Homo sapiens: one gene and its partners. The protein of the gene in region 2 interacts with the protein of the main gene of each other region in a pairwise test. Each region holds a gene or a part of one and is shown on either strand. Other genes may lie near its edges.

What was found.
Region 1: the proteins of WWOX (region 2) and ACY1 interact in binary tests that used the Homo sapiens proteins (3 or more experiments, as listed by UniProt).
Region 3: the proteins of WWOX (region 2) and ATOSB interact in binary tests that used the Homo sapiens proteins (3 or more experiments, as listed by UniProt).

The regions. Positions count from the first base shown.
Region 1 is NC_000003.12:51,978,897-51,986,545, reverse strand, and holds the start of ACY1 (aminoacylase-1), read right to left. Parts: upstream 3,012-7,649; 5' UTR 2,957-3,011; intron 2,500-2,956; coding exon of another isoform or gene 2,482-2,499; coding exon 2,388-2,481; intron 1,340-2,387; coding exon 1,275-1,339; intron 1,186-1,274; coding exon 1,081-1,185; intron 695-1,080; coding exon 600-694; intron 292-599; coding exon 215-291; intron 132-214; coding exon 42-131; intron 1-41. Other genes in the region: ABHD14A-ACY1 readthrough (NMD candidate), read right to left, coding at 42-131, 215-291, 600-694, 1,081-1,185, 1,275-1,339, 2,388-2,499; protein ABHD14A, read right to left, coding at 5,528-5,710, 5,918-6,153. UniProt on the Homo sapiens protein: Catalyzes the hydrolysis of N-acetylated amino acids to acetate and free amino acids.
Region 2 is NC_000016.10:78,102,652-78,109,670, reverse strand, and holds part of WWOX (WW domain-containing oxidoreductase), read right to left. Parts: intron 1,249-7,019; coding exon 1,184-1,248; intron 1-1,183. UniProt on the Homo sapiens protein: Putative oxidoreductase. Acts as a tumor suppressor and plays a role in apoptosis. Required for normal bone development. May function synergistically with p53/TP53 to control genotoxic stress-induced cell death.
Region 3 is NC_000009.12:35,105,852-35,112,870, forward strand, and holds part of ATOSB (atos homolog protein B), read right to left. Parts: intron 6,542-7,019; exon of another isoform or gene 6,479-6,541; intron 5,806-6,478; exon of another isoform or gene 5,716-5,805; intron 5,602-5,715; exon of another isoform or gene 5,418-5,601; intron 5,365-5,417; exon of another isoform or gene 3,809-5,364; intron 3,780-3,808; exon of another isoform or gene 3,354-3,779; intron 2,887-3,353; 5' UTR 2,743-2,886; intron 2,499-2,742; 5' UTR 2,424-2,498; coding exon 1,530-2,423; intron 1,041-1,529; coding exon 982-1,040; intron 793-981; coding exon 687-792; intron 560-686; coding exon 401-559; intron 159-400; coding exon 90-158; intron 7-89; coding exon 1-6. UniProt on the Homo sapiens protein: Transcription regulator that may syncronize transcriptional and translational programs.

The DNA.
Region 1 (7,649 bases), on a different chromosome or scaffold from region 2:
ACTCCCTGCCTGGCTGCTCATTGGCTTGCCAACCTGCTCACCCTCATCCAGGGCAAAGCCTGCCCTCAGGGCGTGGAACTCAGGCCGCTGCACGAACAGCTCCATGCCTTGGTGACCCCCAACCTCCTCATCTGTAAAAGCAGCAGGGACGTGAGATGAGGAGGCTGCCCCGCCCCACCCTCCCCTTTCCCAAAGGTATCTGAGCCACTCCTACCAGGCACAAAGGTCATGTGGATGGTTCTGGGGAACCGGTGGCCCTCCACCTTCAGCCTCCTCACAGCTTCCAGGTACCTGAGGGGGCATAAGCCAGGTGCTGGGGGAGCCACCAGATGCGCAGGCTGGCCCCACAGGCAGGGCCAGCAGGCTGGAGTCCTGTGTCCTGGACTTTACCCTGCCACACCCTGATAGGGACTCCAGAAAGTCCCTGCCCCTCTCTGGTCTGAATCTCCCTATCCATGCAATGGTCATGGCAGTAGTTCCTGTCCAAGAGGTCACGGTGTTCCTTGGCCTTGAGTTTCTCCAATCACCCCCTCAGGTCCTGCTTCAATCCACTGGACCAGTGGGGACATTGTGGAGGAGTAGGAATGGAGGACACTCACTGGATGCTGACGCACTTCATGTCCTGGGCACCCCTGGCATAGATGTAGCCCTCAGAATCCTTGAAGGCCTCAAAGGGGTCGTGACTCCAATGTTCCTGGGGGCAGGGATGGGAAGAGGGGCCCAAACCCCAAATTTAGCCATTAATCCACTCTGGTCAACAGTGGCCCTGCCCTAGGAGCCCACCATAGGGTTGGAGTGACAGGTGGAGTGGTGGGAGAGGAAAGACGGGGGCTGAAGAAGGCAGCTGATTGCCATCCCCCATTGCTGTCTCCTGCTTCCCACCCCCCAGTCCCCACCCCACTCTGGCCCAGAACTTGCTGCTGGATGAAGGCTGCTTGAGTGGTGTAATGTCATAAGGATGTTGAGAGTTAGTGTCAGGACTGGGGCCAGGACCATGAGCAACTTGAGGTTGAATCCTGGGGTCTGCATCATGTCTGTCCCCAAGGCCTGCACTGCCCACCTCCCCAGCCCCTTACACACCTTGAAGACAGGCACCACATCCGTGTGGGAGTTGAGCAAGATGGAGGAGAGTGTAGGGTTGGTGCCTGGCCAGGTCAACACGGTCACCACATAGCCAGGTGCCACCTGGAGATGGTCAGGAGGGTAGGTGGTCTGAGCAGGGTGAGGAAGTGCCCAGGCCCACCTCCCTTCCCCGCTTAGGGCCCCAGGCTCACCTCTACTTTCTGACAGCCCAGGCCCAGCTGGCGGGCTGTCTCCTCAAAGAAAGCCACAGCAGCTCCTGGAGGCACAGAGTGTCTTGGGGCTGCTTCTGCCTACCCACAGCTTCCCACCAGCCCAGGCAGCCCGGAGAGTGGAGCATACCCAGAAATGGGCTGCTGCCTCCCCGACACACTCCATATCCCTCAGAGATGCTTGCATTTCCATCCCCAAGAAAGAAGATATTTTTGGCTACTCAGTGACCCTTTCTGGAAGTCCAGGGGGATGTCTGGACACAGGGTTGGAGGAAGGTGTTATCTTCCTTAAATATGGGAAACTATGGCACAGAGACATGAAGAGATTCACCCACCATCTCTCAGCTGATTAATCACAGAGGAGGAATTTGGACCCATGTACACAATTCCCAGCCACTAAGTTTTTTTTTTTTCTTTTCCTTTTTTTTTTTTTTTTTTTGAGACAGGGTCTCACTCTGTCACCAAGGCAGGAGTGAAGTGGTGCGATCTCGGCTCACTGCAGCCTCAACCTCCCAGGCTCAAGCGATCCTCCCACCTCAACCTCTGGAGTAGCTGGGACTACAGGTGTGCCACCATTCCTGACTAATTTTTGTATTTTTTCTGTAGAGACAGAGTCTTGCCATGTTGCTCAAGCTAGTCTTGAACTCCTGGGCCCAAGCAATCTGCCAGCCTCAACCTCCTGAAGTGCTGGGATAACAGGCAGGAGCCACCTCCCAGGCCCTAGCCACCAAGCTTGACTCCCTAAGGGCTGTGGCCTTTGTCCAGCCCCAGTGGGCTTCTGGAGGGCCTCTCCTTTCCCTGTGGCTGCCTCAGGCTTCCCCCACCACTCCTGCCCTGGAGAGTGAGGTGAAGTTTTTCTTTAACCAGCTGCCAGGAGTAACCTTGGTCAGCAGCAGAGTCTCTGGGGAAAGGGTTCCTCCCTAACCTGGAGGGGCTGCCTCAGTCTATTTACTTGGGGAATGGCTGGAGGGGTTGGGGAGCCATTTGGGACAGCAGAGTGGGGCTCAGCTGGGTGACAGGGGTTGGAGGCTGGTTTAGAGCACAGTCCCCGTCCCTTAGGCCCCGTCACAGGCTCTGGAACCACCGTCTTCTCACCATAGTCAGGCTTGGGCTGGACAGTGCGGATACGCAGGTACTGGCGGAAGAGCGTCACCGATGGGTGCTCCTCCTCGGGACCCTTGCTGGTCATGGCGCTGCGCGTGGTGAGCTGGGGGCAAAGTGAATGGCTAACTACCCCTCCAAGACCCTGGAAATGGTGAGCTCCTGCACACAGCCTGTCCCCACGGCGGCTCCCGGACTTCCCACAGGGGTAGGATACCGTGTTTCGGAGCCCCCATTAAGGAGCACCCATTCTGTTTCAGGCGCTGGGCTGTCTGCTTCCAGCACATTTCCTTATTTAATCCCCAAAAGAGCCCCATGAAGTTTGTGCTCAGAATGCCCACTTTACAGAGGAGAAAGCTGAGAGGCTCAGAGAGGTTCAAGGACAGCTCATAGAGTAGCTGAGCAAGGTTTGAACCCAGACTTGTACTCCCCCCGCCCTCCTAAAAAAAAAAAAAGGCAAAAACAAAAACAAAAAACAAACAAGAAAAACCCCAACGCCTCCCAGTTGCCCGGCTTTCAAGCCACGGAGCCCCAGTCCCTCTATCCCTCCCCAGGGCCCCCACCTCACTCTCCTGTCGCTGGGCTCACGCTCGCCTCTCAGCGCCCTTCCCTGACTGTGGCCTGGACTTAGGGTCCAGCGAGGTCGCCTGCGAGGTCGCAGGCTCAGGACCGCCCCGGTCCGCCCACCACGTGGCCGAGGCCGGATGTCGGGGCGGAGACCGAAGACCGTCAGTGAGGGCCGTCCCGGCGCCAGCGGCCGCGTCGGCGCGGATGTCCCCGCCCGCCTCTGGTTCGGGCCTCAGCGAGATTACTGGAGGATTAGATCCGGATCCCGTCCCCGGGCAGCGGCCGCCGCGGCCAGCGCCGCCCCGCGAGTTGCGAGCTCCGGGCTGGCCCTGCTCTGACAGGCTCGCCCCGCCCCACACGACACGCCTGCCACTCCTGCCCCCAGGTATGCGCCGGGAGCTCAGGACGGTCCCGTCCCCTAAGGGCGCCTCCTCCTTCAGCCCCCGGATAGGGCGGGAGGAAAGGGGGCCGCCCCGAGGCTCTCAAGATGCAGAGCTGCAAAGCCCTGGGCCTGCGCCCTCGCCCTCCTCGGCAAGTCTCCAACGGCTCCCCACTGCAGGCCTCAGCCCCTCGGGGAGGTCCTCCCTGACGCCTCAGCTCCACTTGTACTGAAGTTATTGGCCAATGTCTGTCTGCCCACACTGAACTCCAGGAGGCTGTGAGCTCCACTTCCTGCAAGGTTCTGCCCGGGGCCGTGCCGAGCCCGGACAGTGCCTAGAATGGGAATGAATGCATGGACAAGAGCACGTGTGACGGTTTAAGCGTGCCACTGCGTGTGCAGTCTATCAGTGGATATGATTGTGTATGTGACAGTGTGAGATGGTGGGTGGGTGTGATGAAGTCACTGTGAATGGATGTAATTGTGACCCTGGATGGACAGTGTGAGGAAACTGGCTCTTCTGCAGCCACCAGAGGGGGAGGCTAAACAGGCACAGGTGTACCACTGGCCCCCTGCAGGCCACAGCTGCAGTTGCCCACTTGTGCCCCAGCTGCCCTTTGTACTCCCAGCCAGGTCTGCCCTCTGCTCCAGGGGCTGAGTCAGCTTGGGGAAGGGTGAGGGACAAAGACTTCAATCTCTAGGCCAAGGAGGCACGCTGTGGGAAGGGTTCTGTCCCACCTTTCCTGAGGTTTAAGTCTTGGCTGCTCACACATAACATGGGGGCAAATGGACTTTAACTCATAACAATGCTGGATAATTCTTTATTTAGTTATTTTTTTGATACAGAGTCTCACTCTGTCATGCGGGCAAATAGATTTTAACTCACAACAATGCTGGCTAATTATTTACCTATTTATTCATGCGGGCAAATAGACTTTAACTCATAACAATGCTGGCTAATTATTTAGCTATTTATTTTTTTGAGATGGAGTCTCACTCTGCTGCCCAGGCTGGAGTGCAGTGGCTCCTTCTCGGCTCGCTGAAAACTCCGCCTCCTGGGTTCAAGTGATTCTCCTGCCTCAGCCTCCAGAGTAGCTGGGATTACAGGTGCGTGCCACCACGCTGGGCTAATTTTTGTATTTTTAGTAGAGACAGGGTTTGTCATGTTGGCCAGGGTGGTCTTGAACTCCTGACCTCAGGTGATCCACCCGCCTTGGCCTCCCAAGGTGCTGGGATTACAGATGTGAGCCACAGTGCCCAGCTAATGCTGGTTTTTTTTTTTTTTTTTTTTTTTTTTTTTTTTTTTTTTTTTGAGACGGAGTCTCACTCGCTTTGTCACCCAGGGTGGAGTGCAGTGGTGTGATCTCGGTCTTGGCTCACTGCAAGCTCCGCCTCCCGGGTTCACACCATTCTCCTGCCTCAGCCTACTGAGTAGCTGGGACTAAAGTCACCCGCCACCACGCTCGGCTAATTTTTTGTATTTTTAGTAGAGACGGGTTTTCACCGTGTTAGTCAGGATGGTCTCGATCTCCTGACCTCGTGATCCGCCTGCCTCGGCCTCCCAAAGTGCTGGGATTACAGGTGTGAGCCACTGCGCCCGGCCAATGCTGGCTAATTGTTAAATCGCGTTCCCCATACCCTCTAGGTTCCTGACTTCCTTGGCTTGGCTGTCCAGACCCTGGATTTCCCACCAATCCCTGTGGTCATGCAGCAGCAGTAATACACCCCGCCTCCCACCAGCAATTCCCCAGCCTTATGTGGCCAAGTACTCAGTTATCCAGACTCATTCAGTCCTATAACCACCCTCCAACCTAGGTGTTGCCATCATACCCGTTTTACAGATAAGGAAACTCAGGCACAGAGTGGTGAGGCCAGGCACTTAGGAAGTGGCGCATTCTTAGCCTTCTCAGACTGCTGGACATCCCCTCCAGCTCCCAGGCCCAAAGTAGTCCCAGACTTGCCTCCCACTCCCGTCTTTCCCACAGCACACCAGGAAACGGAACCTGTCACTTCCCAGGCAGGACAAATATGCTTTTTTATTGTGTCTGTGAGATGAAATGAGGAGTCCTGGCTGGGTCTGACCCTGGCCTCTGGCCTCCAATCCCAGAGGCTGTCTCCCTGGTTCAGGGAGGGTGGCGGTCCAGACTGTCCAAGCTCATGCCAGGCTGGGAGCTGGGAGTGGGTTAGTTCAAGGTAGATGGTCAAGGAAGGCAAGCAGGACAAGGTGGAAGTCTTGCGGCTTGTGGAGGTAACAGGCATGGCCTGCATTGCGTAGCTTCACCACAGAGTGGTTGGGCAGGTGGCGGAGCTGCCGCAGTGACTCTCGAGCCAGGATGTGGTCCAGCTCTCCATACAGGATAAGGGTTGGAGTCTGCAGGGCAAGGCAGGGGGCTGTGATCTTGGGGCCTGATGAGTTTCTGACCCCCAAGCCACTTCCTAGGAAGCCTTCCCCAACACCATCCAACTCTTCCATCCAAGGTCAGGGATAAGGCCATGTCCCTCCAAGTAAGACTTGAGTCCTGAACCCCCCCAAGCCACAGACAGGGTGCCAGGACCTTTGAGATCCTTCTCCCAGTACCTTCACAGCCCAGAATTGCTCCTGGGTGTAGTTCTGGGTGGAGGTGGGTGCGATGGGCACAAATCCATGTAGCTGGTGGTGGCCTCGCATCAGGAAGGGCAGGGCATAGTGGCCACTCAGCGAGGGGCTCACCAACACGGCATTCTGTACCTCCAGGTCCCGCAGCGCCCGCTCCAGCAGCGCTGCCCGCCCTGCCTCTGTGCTTGCCTCCTTTGAAGGTGCCGAGTTCCCAAAACCTAGGAACAGCAGCAGGTACCAGCTGAGGGGCACTGGGAAGGGGCACAGGACTTCCTGCCCACCACAGTGGGGGAAAAAGTTGGGGACCACTGGCACTGGCACACACTACCTAAAACTGCCCAGAAGCTATTTTCTGGTAATGTAATATGCCTGTTAGAAAAGCATATCTTGGCCGAGAGTGGTGGCTCACGCCTGTAATCCCAGCACTTTGGGAGGCCGAGGCGGGCAGATCACGAGGTTAGGAGATCGAGACCATCCTGGCTAACACGGTGAAACTCCGTCTCTACTAAAAATACAAAAAATTAGCCAGGCGAGGTGGCGGGCACCTGTAGTCCCAGCTACGCAGGAGGCTGAGGCAGGAGAATGGCATGAACCCCGGGGGGCGGAGCCTGCAGTGAGCCGAGATCATGCCACTGCACTCTAGCCTGGGCGACTGCGAGACTCTGTCTAAAAAAAAAATAAAATAAAATAAAAAATAAATAATACCCAGTGTTGGGGGAGACATGGGGAAATGGGCACTTTCATACATGACAGATGGGAAGATAAATCCATATAGTGTTTTTGGAGGGTGAGATAGTAGTTATCTAAATTTAAAAATGCATGTCCTGGCAGCTGGGCGCGGTGGCTCATGCCTGTAATCCCAGCACTTTGGGAGGCCGAGGTGGCGGATCATGAGGTCAGGAGTTTGAGACCAGCCTGACCAACATGGTGAAACCCTGTCTCTACTAAAAATACAAAAATTAGCCAGGCATGGTGGGGCGCACCTGTAATCCCAGCTACTCAGGAGACTGAGGCAGGAGAATCGCTTGAACCCAGAAGGCGGAGGTTGCAGTGAGCCGAGTACGAGCCACTGCACTCCAGCCAGGGTGACAGAGCGAGGCTCTGTCTCAAAAAAAAAAAAAACAAAAAACAAAAAAAGAAACAAACAAAAAAAAAACAAAACACAACACATCCTTTGGCCCATCAATTGTCCTCAGTAGCTACCCTAGAGAAATTATTGCTCACATGCTCAAAGAAGCATGCCCAAGGATGCTTTAGCTACTATATTGCTTGAGCACTCCGCCAGTAGAGGAATGGCTGAATAAAGCCTGTCCATCCCTCCTATGGGACACACTGCAGGGTTGACAACAAAGAGGGAGGTTTGTAGGGACCGGCATGATCCTTGAGACATGATGTAGGGGGAGAAAACCAAGCTACAGATGGATGTGCTAAGCAGACAGGATACCAATCATGTTTACAGCCCCCACTAGACAATCCTCTACATCGTCTGCATCTTTACATGTGGGAATACCCAGAACAGCGTGTGGCATCCCCTAAACTTCTTAGAGAGGGAGAGAAATGCGGCACCAGTCTCTCAGAGCTTTGCTATTTTTTAGTATTTTTTAATCCTCTATGACTCGACATTTTTTCATTTTTTTAATGACAAGAATGATAGCATAAATCATTTGTGTACTTAAAAACACAAAACCTATATGGTTTGCCATAGAAAGTACAC
Region 2 (7,019 bases):
CCACCCAGCAGTTGTCACATCAACTGGCTTTCGTCACATGTTCCAACTGCGACAGCTGCAGAAGGCCCCTGATCCCACCCTGGGCTCCACATTTTTGCCTCTTGTTTTGAAGAAAACCTATTTTATTCCTGATCGCTCTATAAACCATACTGGTTGTGCCAATCCATGGGAATTCTCCCTTGAATGAGCTCAAAGAACATATGTATATGCAGGGCAGGCACCCAACGTCATTCATACGCTGACCTCATATGACATTAGAGGGCACGGCCATTTTTTTTCATGTGCACATGTTGATTCTTCAGCTGGATCCTAAACCTCTTAAGGGCAGGAACCTTCTCATATTTTTTTTTGAGATGGGGTCTCACTATGTTGCCTAGGCTCACCTCGAATTCCCAGGCACAAGTGATCCTCCCACCTCTGCCTCCCAAAGGGCTGGGATCACAAGCACAAGCCACCGTGCCTGTCCCTTTCTTATACTTCTATTCCGTGGATCATACATTATCTCAGAATCACCTAGAAGTCATGGTAATCTTTACGAAATTTCCAAATACTTATATATTTAATTCCATAGTATAGCCAAGAACAATTTTATAAACACTGCAACGATAGGAAAACATCATAAACTGTGAATCAAAGGCCTCAATTATTTTCTGGTTTTTGTTGTTGTTGTTGTCGCTATTTTTCAGACAGCATCTCACTCTGTCACCGAGGCTGGAGCGCAGTGGTGTGATCTTGGCTCACTGCAACCTCCAGCTCCTGGGTTTGAGCACTTCTCGTGCCTCAGCCTCCAAAGTAGCTGGAATTACAGGCGCATGCAACCATGCCCAGCTAATTTTTGTATTTTTAGAAGAGATGCGCTTTCAACATGTTGGCCAGGCTAGTCTCAAACTCCTGACCTCAGGTGATCCATCCGCCTCGGCCTCCCGAAGTGCTGGGATTACAGGCATGAGCCACCACATCTGGCCATTTTGGTACTTTAAGACCAGTAAGAAATCATCCTCACTCCACCCTATGATCTCATCATCTTCTTCTGCCAAATCCCATAAGCTCCTCAGAGTGGGAGTCTGGTTCTCTACCAGAGAGCCCTCCCTAAACACACAATAACCTGTCACCTCTCTGCCAGTGACATTTCCTCATCTACTTAATGCTTCCATCCAAGATCCTTAGACAACAACATACAAACCTCCTGCCACTCGTTTTCTTTTTCCAGTTTTTGGATGTTCCCACTGAGTCTTCTCCTCGGTGTGACTGTTAAAAAACAAAAAATCCACAGTAATAAGTAAAAATTAACTCTTCTAAAAAGTAATCAATTGTATTAAATTTTTTCTCTCCCAGATAGCCAGATATAAGAAGGAAGTAGGGGGAAGAAGGAGAAAGAGGACTGTGACCCCAGCTACGGGGTCAACTTTAGGAGGTTTGCTGAATCACTCAAAATATCTAGAGGCCGTCGGGAGCGGTGGCTCACACCTGTAATCCCAGCACTTTGGGAGCCCTAGGGGAGCAGATCACAAGGTCAGGAGATGGAGACCATCCTGGCCAACATGGTGAAACCCTGTCTCTACCAAAAATACAAAATTAGCTGGGGACAGTGGCACGTGCCTGTAGTCCCAGCTACTCGGGAGGCTGAGGCAGGAGAATCGCTTGAGCCAGGGAAGCAGAAGTTGCAGTGAGCCGAGATCACGCCGCTGCACTCCAGCCTGGCGACAGAGCAAGACTCTGTCTCAAAAATAAATAAATAAATAAATAAATCTAGAGGCATTTTGCTGTGTATTTGTTTTGGTTTTATTCCACGATGTAGGGACAAAATTCATAATATCTAATTTATATAATCTCTTAAAATGTTTATTTATTTGTGTTTCTTTTTAAAGAATCAGGGTCTCACTATGTTGCCCAGGCTGGACTGGAACTCCTGGACTCAAGTAACCCTCCTATTTCAGCCTCTTGAGTGGCTGGGACTAGAAGCCCGTGCCACCTTGCCCAGCTAAAATGTTTATTCTTTCCACAGATGTAACTTCAAAGTGTTTCATTAAGCACTGGTTCCTAACTGGTCCCAAGAGGTAGTTAAGAGATGCAGTAAGACCTTCCCATAGGGCATCTAGCTGTGCGCTGTGCACCTTTGGTCAAGTGACCCCACTCCTTAATCTCCATCCCCTCATCTGCAAAATGGAAATAATCCTAGCACTGGTCTCAGGGGCTACTATAAGAATATTGTACATCCAGGGTTTCGCATAGCACTTGGCATACAAAAAGCTCTGAGAAATGTAAGCTGTTATTCTGAACAAATCAGTTACACAAACTAGTCCTATTTTTGCGTCAAACTTAACATTTCATTTCAGACCACCACCCAAAGTTATAATTAAAAACATAGGTCAATAACTAGAAACACGTGTCACCAGGTAATAAGGTATCCAGGAAAACATACAATTATTTCAAAAGGGAAACAGCCAGGTGCTACAAGAGGTATTCGAAGGGTAGGCTGCGTTTCCTAAAAGTTCACCTACTCATGCCAACCCAGAAAGTTATATTATTTAATCAGCAACATCTAGATGATAAGATGTGAACATTCTTTCCCTATCAATTATTTTACAGAAAATAAATACAGAGAGCACGAATTTTCTAAAAAATTCTACAACTTGCAAGCAAGGTCTTTTCATGAACTGCTGGCTTCTGGTCTGTTTGACAAAGTCTTGGCAGCTGGGTCTCTGTCATAGTGCAGGAATGCCTCACTCAGCACGCTGAAGACCTGAGCAGCCCATGCTAGCTGAGTCCAGCCAGTCTCCTCAGGGCTACTGCCACCTCACAGAGCTGCTGAAAAGGCGAGACACATGACACCTGTGACAGTGCTTGGAGAACGATTAAAACCTTGTACCAGCTACGGTATCAGTAGCAAGGACAAACTCCTACTTTGTACATCAACCACCATCCAATATCACTTGCAAAAAAAAGCAGCTCTGTGGCCGGGCGCGGTGGCTCATGTCTGTAATCCCAGTACTTCAGGAGGGCAAGGCAGGCGGATTACCTGAGGTCAGGAGTTCGCGACCAGCCTGAACAACATGGAGAAACCCTGTCTCTACTAAAAATACAAAATTAGCCTGGCGTGGTGGCACATGCCTGTAATCCCAGCTACTCGGGAAGCTGAGGCAGGAGAATTGCTTCAACCCGGCAGGCAGAGGCTGCGGTGAGCTGAGATCGTGCACTCCAGCCTGGGCAACAATTGTGAAACTCCATCTCAAAAAAAAAAAAAAAAAACAAAAAAAAACCGTTCTGACTCTCTGGCTCTCTAGTAAGGATAACCCGCTCTCTGCTGGCACAGTGGGAATATTGGTATACCAACTCCTGCTTCTCCTTCAAAATGAATGGCAACAGCAATCAGATAAACCAAGCATTGGCAATAACATGAAACCTTCCAGCCCCTTGCAGAGCTGTGTCTCAAGCTTCTTCAAGAAAGTTAAGAGATGGACTTGCATTTTCCTTGCCTGCCATTAAAAGCAGTCTTTATCTCATAGGCACACATCAAATGTGCTTGAAGCCTGGCTCCAAAAAACTCTGCCCTCAAGAATCCATGGAGTGGCGGGGTACGGTGGCTCACGCCTGTAATCCCAGCACTTTGGGAGGCCGAGGCGGGAGGATCGCTAGAGCCCAGGAGATCGAGACCAGCCTAGGCAACATGGCAAAACCCCATCTCTACTAAAAATACAAAAATTAGACAGACATGGTGGCACATGCCTGTAATCCCAGCTACTTGAGTGGCTGAGGCATGAGAATTTCCTGAACCTGGGAGGTGGAGGTTGCAGTGAGCCAAAATCACGCCACTGCAGTCCAGCCTGGGCGAAAAAGCAAGACTCAACCTAAAAATAAAAAATAAAAAAATCCACAAAATGACCCTTAACAGTGGAAGCTGAGCCTTGTTGGCAGGCAGGCTGGCATAGAAAGAGCCTCCCAGCCCTTAGAAGGTGAAGCTGGGCCCTCAGACATGTAGCCTCATGCCTGGCCCACAGCAGGCGCACAAATGTAAACAAACAGAATGAATACTTTCCAAAGGAACTACAAAACTCACTCAGAACAGTTTTTATTTATTCAGAAAGACATTTAAAAAACAAAACAAACTCTGTCAACCTACGTTCTTGACTTTCACAGAACATGCCTGAATCAGGGTTTCTTATTCTCACTGCTGGTGGCACTTGGGGCTGGATCATTCTTTTTTTTTTTTTTGAGACAGAGTCTCACTCTGTCACCCAGGCTGCAGTACAGTGGTGCAATCTCAGCTCACTGCAACCTCTGCCTCCCAGGTTCAAGCAATTCTCCCGCCTCAGCCTGAGTAGCTAGGATTACAGGCACCTGCCACCATGCCGGGATAATTTTTGTATTTTTAGTAGAGATGGGGTTTCACCATGTTGGCCAGGCAGGTCTCGAACTCCTGACCTCAACTGATCCACCTGCCTCGGCCTCCCAAAGTGCTGGGATTACAGGCGTGAACCACTGCACCCGGCCTGCATCATTCTTTGTTGCGGGGCTGCCTTGGGCACCACTGGCCTCTGCCCATCAGATGCCAATACCCCAGTCCCATAGCTGTGGCAACAGAAAGCATCTCCAGACATTGCCAGCCGTCCCCTGCAGGACACAACCATCCCTGGGGAAGAATCCGGAACCAGCTGAAGCAGAGAGAGTAATTTGGTCGTGAAGATTCTGAAGCCCAACTGCCAAGGTTTTCTGGGTCTCCCATTTGCCAGCCACTCTGCCCTTGAAGAAGTCATTTAATCCCATGCCTCAGTTTCCTCAACAGTTTAGATGGGGACAATAACAGCACTTACTTCTTGGGGTTATAGAGAACCGAGTGAGTTAACACGGGAAGAACTAAGAACTGTACCTTTCAATAGAAGACTTTTTTTTAATAAATATAAAAATTAATTAAAAGATGTTCTTTTTAATTATAACCTTAAATGACTTTTTAATGAAGAGAAAATTAGAACACATGTCCCCTAAGCATTCTCCTATTCTCCTTTAAATAGAAGCCGTCTTTGATTTTTTATTCTTTCAACGAGCTTGTCATTTAAAAAGATAATTAAGAGTAATCTAAACTTAAACCAAAGGATTCAAATTTAAGTGAACATCATATTATGTGAATACCACACTTCCACGTATGGGGTGTTTTCTGTTAATTTTTTTTTAGACAAGGTCTCATTCTGTGGCCCAGGCTAGAGTACAGTGATGCAATCATAGCCCACTGCAGCCTCGAGCTCCTGGGCTCAGGCGATCCTCCCACCTTGGCCTCCCACCATGGCCAGCCTATGGGTGTGTGTGTGTGTGTGTATGTGCGTGCATGCGTGCGTGCGTGCGTGTGTTTTTTGAGCACAGTGTAAGTTAGCAGGGAGATCTAGAGTTGACAGTGAGGACAGCCAGTGTGTGTGTGTGTGTGTGTGTGTGTGTGTGTGTGTGTGTTTTGAGCACAGTGTAAGTTAGCAGGGAGATCTAGACTTCACGGTGAGGACAGCCAGCCCTGTGGACACAGGCACCATTGAGGCCTCTGACTGCCAAAAGGCCTGAGCTTCATAAGAGGCACGGGGAAGGGCAAACAAGGACGGCTCTGACACTGAGACCTTGTCCCTCACTTCCCATCTCCCATGAAGGGGCTGCTCTGAGACTGTGAGGGGAGAGGGGTAGAAGAAAGGCCCACCAGCTCTCTTGGGTTCCCGGTCTACCTCGACCTCACCCCTGGGAGCCCACCCTGGTGGGCTTTGGAGTGCTAGGACATGTGTGCCTTTGAGGCACACAAGTGAACCGTGAGGCAGGTGGGAAAGCAGGAGAGGCCGACAGCACCCACACAAGACCGGGTTCCACCAGACCCCGAGGTCTCAGTGGGAGCTACAGCCTCTATCCCTGGCCATGGCCCTGCTACAGTAGGAGAAACAATATGGAAAAGAAATGACTCAAAGAGCAGCCTCCTAGAAAGAACAACCACAAAGTTTCCCAAACCCCAAGAGAAAAACAAGTGTCACTTCCAGAGTCAGGAATGAAAAGGGGTTGGAGCCAGCGCAAAAATTAAAACTGAAAAGAAAAGAAGGGCCAGGATGCTCACAGATCAGGAGAGATCAAGGGAATGTCGGGTTAGGATGGATCAGAGGCATCCTAAGCTAACACCCAAAGAATTTCAGCCTTTCAACCCTGATCCAGAGAACTGAGGGCCAGCAGGGACGGACACAAGGTCCAGAGAGTGAGCCCTCCAGCTGAGAGCCAGCCAAGCCCTGGCATCTCAGCTGGTGTATACAATAAATAGCTAATGCACGGGGGGCTGAACAACTAGGTGATGGGTTGACAAGTGCAGCAAGTCACCATGGCACAGGTTTACTTATGTAACAAACCTGCACATCCTGCACATGTATCCCGGAATTTAAAGTTAAATTAAATTAAAAAAAAAAAAAAAAAAAAAACAGCGGAGCCAGAGAGGCCAGCTTGAGATTTAAGACACTAGTCGGGAGGGCTGGAGGAAAGGCGTTTGGAAACCATGTATGCACCCGAGTCCCCTGGCCAGGGGCCACTCAGGAAGAAAGCAGATGGGAGAAAGGCCAGGCAGCAGGAAGGCAGGCGCAGGGGGCACGCAGGAGCAAGGGAGCCCCAGGGCCCTAGCGCCAGGCTCCAGGGCAAGCCTGCAGGGAAGCAGAAGCACCTCTGGGGCTGAGTGGCAAAGGAGGAGACGCCCCACAGAGCCAGAGGCAGAGGTGGGCTTAGGAAGCCGGAAGCGGGTCATGTGCATCTTTGTACTCTGGGGCCCAGTGCACCACCCACCCACCCACAGAAGCCTGCGGCTGACCCTCCCAAGGTGATTCATTTACTCATCCCACAGGGGCTCATCTTATGGCTTCTGGGTGCCAAGCACTGGGGACACTCAGATGAACAAGCTGCCCCATGACATCTGCAACCTGGGCAAGGGAGACAGGGCCAACAAGGAGGAGTACACAGCCAAGGCTAAGCACGAAGAAGCAGAGAAACAAGGTGACTAGTACAAGGTCGAGGGGACACCC
Region 3 (7,019 bases), on a different chromosome or scaffold from region 2:
TAAGGTCTAGGGACAGGACAGTCAAGGTTGGTAGGGCCTGAGGGCTGCTTTCCTCTCTCCCCACTCCCACTCCCTCAGGGCAAACTCACCACTTGGACGGTGCCCACCTTGGGCACGCTGTAACCCTTCCTCCCCAAGGGGTTCAGATCCACGATGCCCTGGAAGGCCAGGGAGCCATCAGTCAAGGTGGGGACTAGGAAAACCCTGGGCCCTAAACACATGTCCCTCTCCACAAGCTCTCACCCTGAACCTGCCCCTGCCCTACAGTAGAGTTCTCCTCACCTGGCCCTGACTCACTTCTAGGTGAGGAATAAGTAAGAAATACCTCTTGCCCCCTGGCCCCGCCCCCAAATCCTCATCCTCTTGATGAGCTGACTTTGGGGTTGGAGTCAAGGCATACCAGGAAGGGAGCCGGGGCATTTTGCTCAGAAACATCAAAGAATGTGACAGTGACAGGCAGCGTGACGTGCTGGGGGCAGTATGACCCACTAGCTCCAATTTCTGCTGTGAAGCCCTCAATGTGGCCAGATGGTGCAAAACGTCCTCGCAGCAATGATTCCTGGGATTAGGGTAGGGAAAACACATGAAGAGAGAGATGCCAATTCTTTTCCTTATCCATCCAAGCCACATTCCACCATCCCACCTCTCCCAGGACCCCGGCAATCACAAACCCCAACGGGAGCTACCTCAAAGTTGCCCAGCAGGGTACGGCTGACAGCAGGGGTAGGAACAGGGGAGGCACTGGGGGGGCTCAGCAGGCCTGGCCCCTTCCGGAGGCTTCGAAGGGGGCTCCTGGTAGAGGAAGGGAAACACAGGGGGTTGGCTTGAGGTATTCTGGGATTCCTGCTTATGCCCTTGGACTCCACCCTCTGCCACTATGTAGGGCTTCTGCCCTGGGGTCCCCTACTCGGATGCTGGAAAGAGTACAGACTTCTGCCCCCATTCTCAGGGACAGGGTAGAGGAAAAAGCTGGTCACTTACAGCTTCAGGCGACGGGCTCCTTTCAGCCTCCGCCCCATGGGACCGCAGTCTGTTGGGTCCTACGGAGAGAAATGATTGGGAAAAGACACAGGGTGAAGGCCATGTATGTTTTGGGGCAGAAGCTCATCACAAACTCTCAAAGGAACACCCTGCCCCCCAGGCCTCCACCTTTACCCACACAAATATCCACTTAAGAGTACATGAAGGACAGGCGCAGTGGCTTGAGCGCCTGTAATCACAACACTTTAGAAGGCCAAGGTGGGTCGATGATTTGAGCTCAGGAGTTCGAGACCAGCTTGGGCAACATGGCGAAACCCCATTTCTACCAAAAATACCAAAAATTAGCTGGGTGCAATGTCATGTGCCTGTGGTCCCAGATACTTGGGAGGCTGAGGTTGGAGGATCCCTTGAGCCTGGGAGGAGGAGGTTGCAGTCAGCTGAGATTGTGCCACTGCACTCCAGCAGTGATGGAGTGAGATCCCATCTCAAAAAAAAAAAAAAAAAAAAAAAAGTAAAAAAAGAGTAAATGAGGTCCTTTATTGGCTTACCAAAACAGGCTCTTTGGGCCCAGGCAGCAGGTGGCTCCAGAAGGGTGTGGCTTTGGCATCAGAACTGTTGGCAGCAGTAGGGTGGCCCAGGGATCCCCGGCGCCTCCGAGGGGCTGGCCCCTCTTCCTCAGAGCTGACATCTGGGGCTTCTCCAGCAGGAAGCAGCCTTCGCTTGGTGGGGCAGGGGCCTGGGGGTCCAGGGCCAGGGGGTGTGTGCTCGGGACTGTGCCCATTGGCAGTGCCAGGGGACTCCCTAGGCCAGAGGCTACCCCCATTGCCCACCCCAGCCACTGGGCTCTTACCCCCTATTTGTGCAAGACTGTGCAAATCAGTGTCAAGTGTGTGCAGCTGGCCTGGAGGGGCTGGCCCTGGGGACTCCCCCAGGGACCCCTGTCCCCCTGGATCTGGGGAGGCCCAGTCTCTGGTGTGCAAAGTATTGCAGGAAGCATTTGATGGGGGGCAGGGGGGACTCCAGGCCCCCGAAGTCCAAGATGAGGTGACACTACTTCTCTGTTCCACAACACAGAGGCCACGGTGGGAGAAATGCTGGCTGGCCACACCTAGTCCCAGCCCCGGTCCCTCTGGGCCTAAGAGCCCCACAGTAGATGGTTCTTCAGGGGGTAGTCCCTCTCTGGCCCCCAGCCCAGGGCCTCTCTTCAGCTCCCGGGGACCCTCAGTGGATGGGGCTTGTCGTTTCAGGGCCCTATGAGGCTCAGAGGTACCAGCCGGAGGGGAAAAGATGGATACCTGGTAGACCCCGGGGGATGTCGCCCCCCCTGCTGGGCTGTAGCCCATGAGCAGGCCACCCTGGAGGGCCCCCTGCCTGACTGGAGGCTGTGAAGGGCCAGCCTCCGGCTCTGAGGATGGAGACGGCTCCGCCTGCACGTGGCGCATGAAGCCCCCCTTGGGTCAGGGGGGCCCCCCAACACGGCCTTTATGCTGGGCCTGGGCTGGGGGGCCTGGGGACATCTGTGTAAGAGAAGAGAAGAAAAGGTGGTCAGGGGAATCAATGAGTCTTCTTCCTTCCAGCTGAGTTTCAGACCCTCTCCTTGCCTAAAGGGGTGACTTTGATGGGTTCCCAAGGATGAATGTGTACAAATCCCTGGATGGACTAATGGAATATAGAGACCACTCTCAGAACTCCTGAGAGGGTGACAGGTTTAGCTCAGGCTTCTTACTGGACACACTTCCCCCTCTTCTCCCTGGTACTTACCCCGATGAAGAGGCCTCAAGCCTAGCTGTGCGTCCCCTCTTCCCAACTGATGCCTCGTGCCCCTAGCTTGCAGTCTGATCCATGCCTGCTGCACTGGCAAGGTGACTGCCACCATTCCGTGCAGCTCCTGAGCTCAGCAGGACCCTGAGGAGAGAAGAACAGACGTAAGCCAGGATCACTGGAGCCAGCGGTAAGGCCTGTCACCAATTATAGGCTAATAGTACACTCCAGGACATCCTTCTCCCATGTGAGAGGCTCTTCAGGAACAGAAAGGGTAGGCTTGGGGTCCAGGGCACAGATGGCAGAGTTGGGCTACCTAAGGAGTCAAAGAGGCAGGTCTTGGCTCAGTATAATAAGGATGTGACAAGTGAGTTGAGGTAGAATAACTACTTGTCAGGGCCACCATTTGAGGACTCCTGCCCTACATGGAGGAAGGGATGAGAGACCCCCAAGATCCAAGAGACCGTGTCAGCTGAGAGGCGGCCAGGGGAAGAATTCAGCTTTCTTACTCAAAGCCACCAAATTGCACAACTCCTTCTTATATGTCTATCTCCAAAGGGACAAGTGCCATCCTAGGGCACTAAGGGCAGAGGTCTCCCACACAGTTATACCCCATCAGCGGTCCTCAGAGGTACAAATTTCAAGTCAGCTCAGAGCTGGCCTTTCAGCCCTGAACTCCAAATTGCCTCCAGCAGCCTGTCTCTTTAACAAGAGGCAACAAATCCGACCAAAAACAAGAAGGGGAAGGGGAAGGGGTCACTGCCAGAAGGCACTTTCCAGGGCCCTCCCGCAAGGCCCTGCAAACTAGAGATAAGGCCGCAGCAGTCAGTCAGCTGGAAGCAACTAGGGAGTACCTCTCCACGCCCCTCCCCCAGTGCTCACACACCCAACACCAAAACCCCAAACCACGGGTGCATAAGATGGTCTTCACTAACTATTCCAGCCCATACTAGGGTGAGGGGAATGTCAAGTTGAAAGCCAGCTGCCCCCAGGGTCAGCCTTCTCTTTTGCTGTCTGACATTCACGGTGCTCTTTCCCCTTCAAGAAGTGCCCTTTGAATGCCTACCCAAGACTTTTCCTCCTTGGATAGGTCAAATGCCATCTCCTCCAGAAAGTCTGCTCTGTCCACCCCAGACCATAAGCATCTCTCCCTTCTCTGAGACCTCACCTATGGCAGTGTTACTACTTCCTGTAAGCTCACTAACAGTTCTGCTCACTCCTGTGGGTAAGGCATCTTCTAGACCGACCATAGAGTTCCTGAGGACAGATCTGTGTCCCACCCCTCCATCCAACCCCAAGTACAGGGGTAAGCACACAGCAGGGCTCAAAAAAAGTAGAATGCAAGTCCCAGACATCTGAGCAGCAGTCCTGAGAGTGGAGAGAAAAATTTCCCAGATGAGAGAAGCAGAGAGATTAATTGTACAAGGGAAAATCAGGAACAGAGGTGGGGGTGGGGAGCAGGCAGAAAGGAGAGATTTGTACCCAGGGACTGAAAAGCTCTCCTACACCAAGTTCCCATCATTGTACCCCACTATCCCATTTCACCAAATTCTCCTAAGAATTGGGATCCCTAAGAAAATCCTGGTTCCCTGTGGTGGGCGGGATGGCTGGAAAGGGCAGAACACCAATCGCAACCTGCACTATCCTACCTGCAACCAACCTTGTCAGAAGGTACAACCTGCACTAATTTCTACCCTTCTTTCCTCCACCCAAGCCATACAGATTCAGGAGGGGCCTTTTCCCTAGCACCACCACTTCCAGGTCATCCCAGTTGCCCTCTTGACCCCTTGCCCTGGGGAAGCCAGGGGATGACATGATGCCCTACTTGACCCCAGCATACCTGGCATCTGCTTATTAACCCCAGAGCCCTCTCAGTTCCCACCCTGTCAACAAGACGCTCTATATTCACTCCCCTGCCACCCAGCCAGTCTGGCTCTAGACCATGGCTTCAAGCTGACTCATGGGGCAGGACTGCAGGGGAGGGGGGCAGGGCAGAGTAGGCCAAGCCTCACTCTTCGTTCAGGGGGTGGGCAGCAGCTGGCATCAAACAGCTGTGCCAGGCTGTGGCTGGCAAGGACTACAGCTCCCAACATGCTGAGGGAGCAAGGCCAGCAAAAACAACAAGTCCCAGAATACGTCTGTACCTTTAGACACTTTTGAGGCCTGGGAGGTGGGTGAGGTGGGTATTGGTATAGGTATCAGCTTCAAGGCTCATTCTCCCCTTCCCTTCAGTATTAAAGATTTCCATTTCTACCATGATCAAGGAGAGTGACAGGATGAATTCCTATCCATGTGCTTTCCACCCTCATCCTATGCAAAGAGAACTGCTGCCAGCTGCTCTCTATTTTGTCCCTACATACATCCACACAAGCTAGGGGGGCTGTTCCCACGGACCACCACTGTGGGTAGGAAGGTCGACTTCTTCTCTCTTACCAACCCCTCGGCCCCCAGCCTAGAGCCCTCTATCTTCAGAGGGGAGAGAGCAGACCTTAGCAGACTCTCTAAACTAAGCCAGGCAGACTCACCTGACTCCTGGACTCCTTCTTCTGGACGATCCCTTACCCCCTGCCCAGCCTCCCAGGTCCCTTCTCACTCCTCTCCTCCCCACAGCCTGGGACAGGCCCCATACTATACTGGAGCTTCGGAGATTTGCTCTTTCCCTCTAGCACACTCACCCCGCTCCCAAATTGGCTCCGCGGAGGTGGCCGCTGCTCCGGGCCCTTCCGTCCCGTCCCGTCCCGGTCCCTCCCCTTGGTTCCCCGGTCCTCCCTGCCACGGGCCCCCAACCCAGACAAAGGGTGGCTCAGGCTGAGCCCTGCTCTGCTAGGCTCTTCGCTGTTCAGCTTCGTGTGCAACACTAGCGGGCCCTGGCGCCCGCAGCCCCCCAGCCGCTGCCGCGCCCCTCCCTGCGACGGTCCCTCCCCGGGGCCGCCCCGGCTCCGCGCCGCCGACTCCACTGCCCCTCTGACTCACAGGCCATTTCCTACCAGCTGATGGGGCCGCCCGCCCCGCCCAGTGCCCCACCACCCGCGCCGCGGCGGCCACGGCCGCCACGCCCCCCTCAGGCTACGCCCTCCCTGGAAAGCGACCATGCTCATTGGTCCATAGGAAGCCAGCCTCCCCGCGACCTCAAGTGCGAGGCACGCCCCCTCCAAGAGGCACACGCCTATTGGTCCATAAGGGGGTAGGCTTACCCAAGGTCGCTCCGCCCTTCTCCTTAACCCGACAGCTGCCGGAGTCCAAAGCAACACCCTGCCCTGCCATTTAACCCTTTCAAAGGCGTAGGCCTTCCACATCTTACCCCTCCGCCCTACTCCCCCGCCCTTCCTCCTTCCAGGACGGTTAATAGGAAGCCCGAGGGCTTTAAAGATACGGTTTGACAACCCTCAAAGTCTGCCTGCTGTCTATACCAGACCCCAGACCCCAAATACCTCACTCCCATTTGTCTTTCCCCACCTTCCAAACCAAAGCTTCAGAGCTGGAGAACTAGTGAAGCCCAGGAAGCTTCCTCCATGCCAGAGAAGAAAAAGGCCTGAGGTGGGACCCTATCTCCTTCCATGTTAAGAAGTGGTACTTTTCCCTCTGTTACTCTTAAATTGATGTTCTTTTGCCTTCTTTAGAGGAGCCCCACGGGTTCCTAAGATAGGGATACATTTTAATCTCAGGGACCAGCATTATTCTTTGTGCCTCTGAACTCCCTTTCTGAGATCAGCCTGCCAGCACTCTTTCTACTCACAGGCCCATGTTCAAGGAGACAGAGCATACAGGGAAGTGGGATAGGAGAGCTTCTGCCCAGAATGGGGGAAATGAGCCCAACTCTTGTGATGGAGCTCAACCCCATGACTCACAGCTCCCTCAAAACTATCCACCCTCCCACTGAGTCACTGGGCCCCAGCCCAGTTCAGACCCAGTCAAATCAAATGGCAGCAGAACCGGCATCCCTAACCCTTGTCCTCCTATTCTTTAAATGACCAGGATGGAAACCTTTGCAAGGATTGAGCATTCAAAGACACTTTCTAGAGGGTACTCTAGAGGTAAACTAAGAAAAGCAATAGTCCTGTCTACCCTGCCCTCTGCACTTGTCAGCAAGTCGGATAATTTGGGACTTAGGAGGCTTTTTCTCCCGGTCCTTCACAGAAGCAGGAGGCAAACACCAGAGCCAAAGAGGGAAAGTCCATTCTTCTACAGTTCAGAGGCCACAGAGAGCCCAAGGTCCTTGTTTCTGCCTTGCCTGTGCTGTGGACCCCCCAGGGCCCTGAGGTTATATCACTAGATAG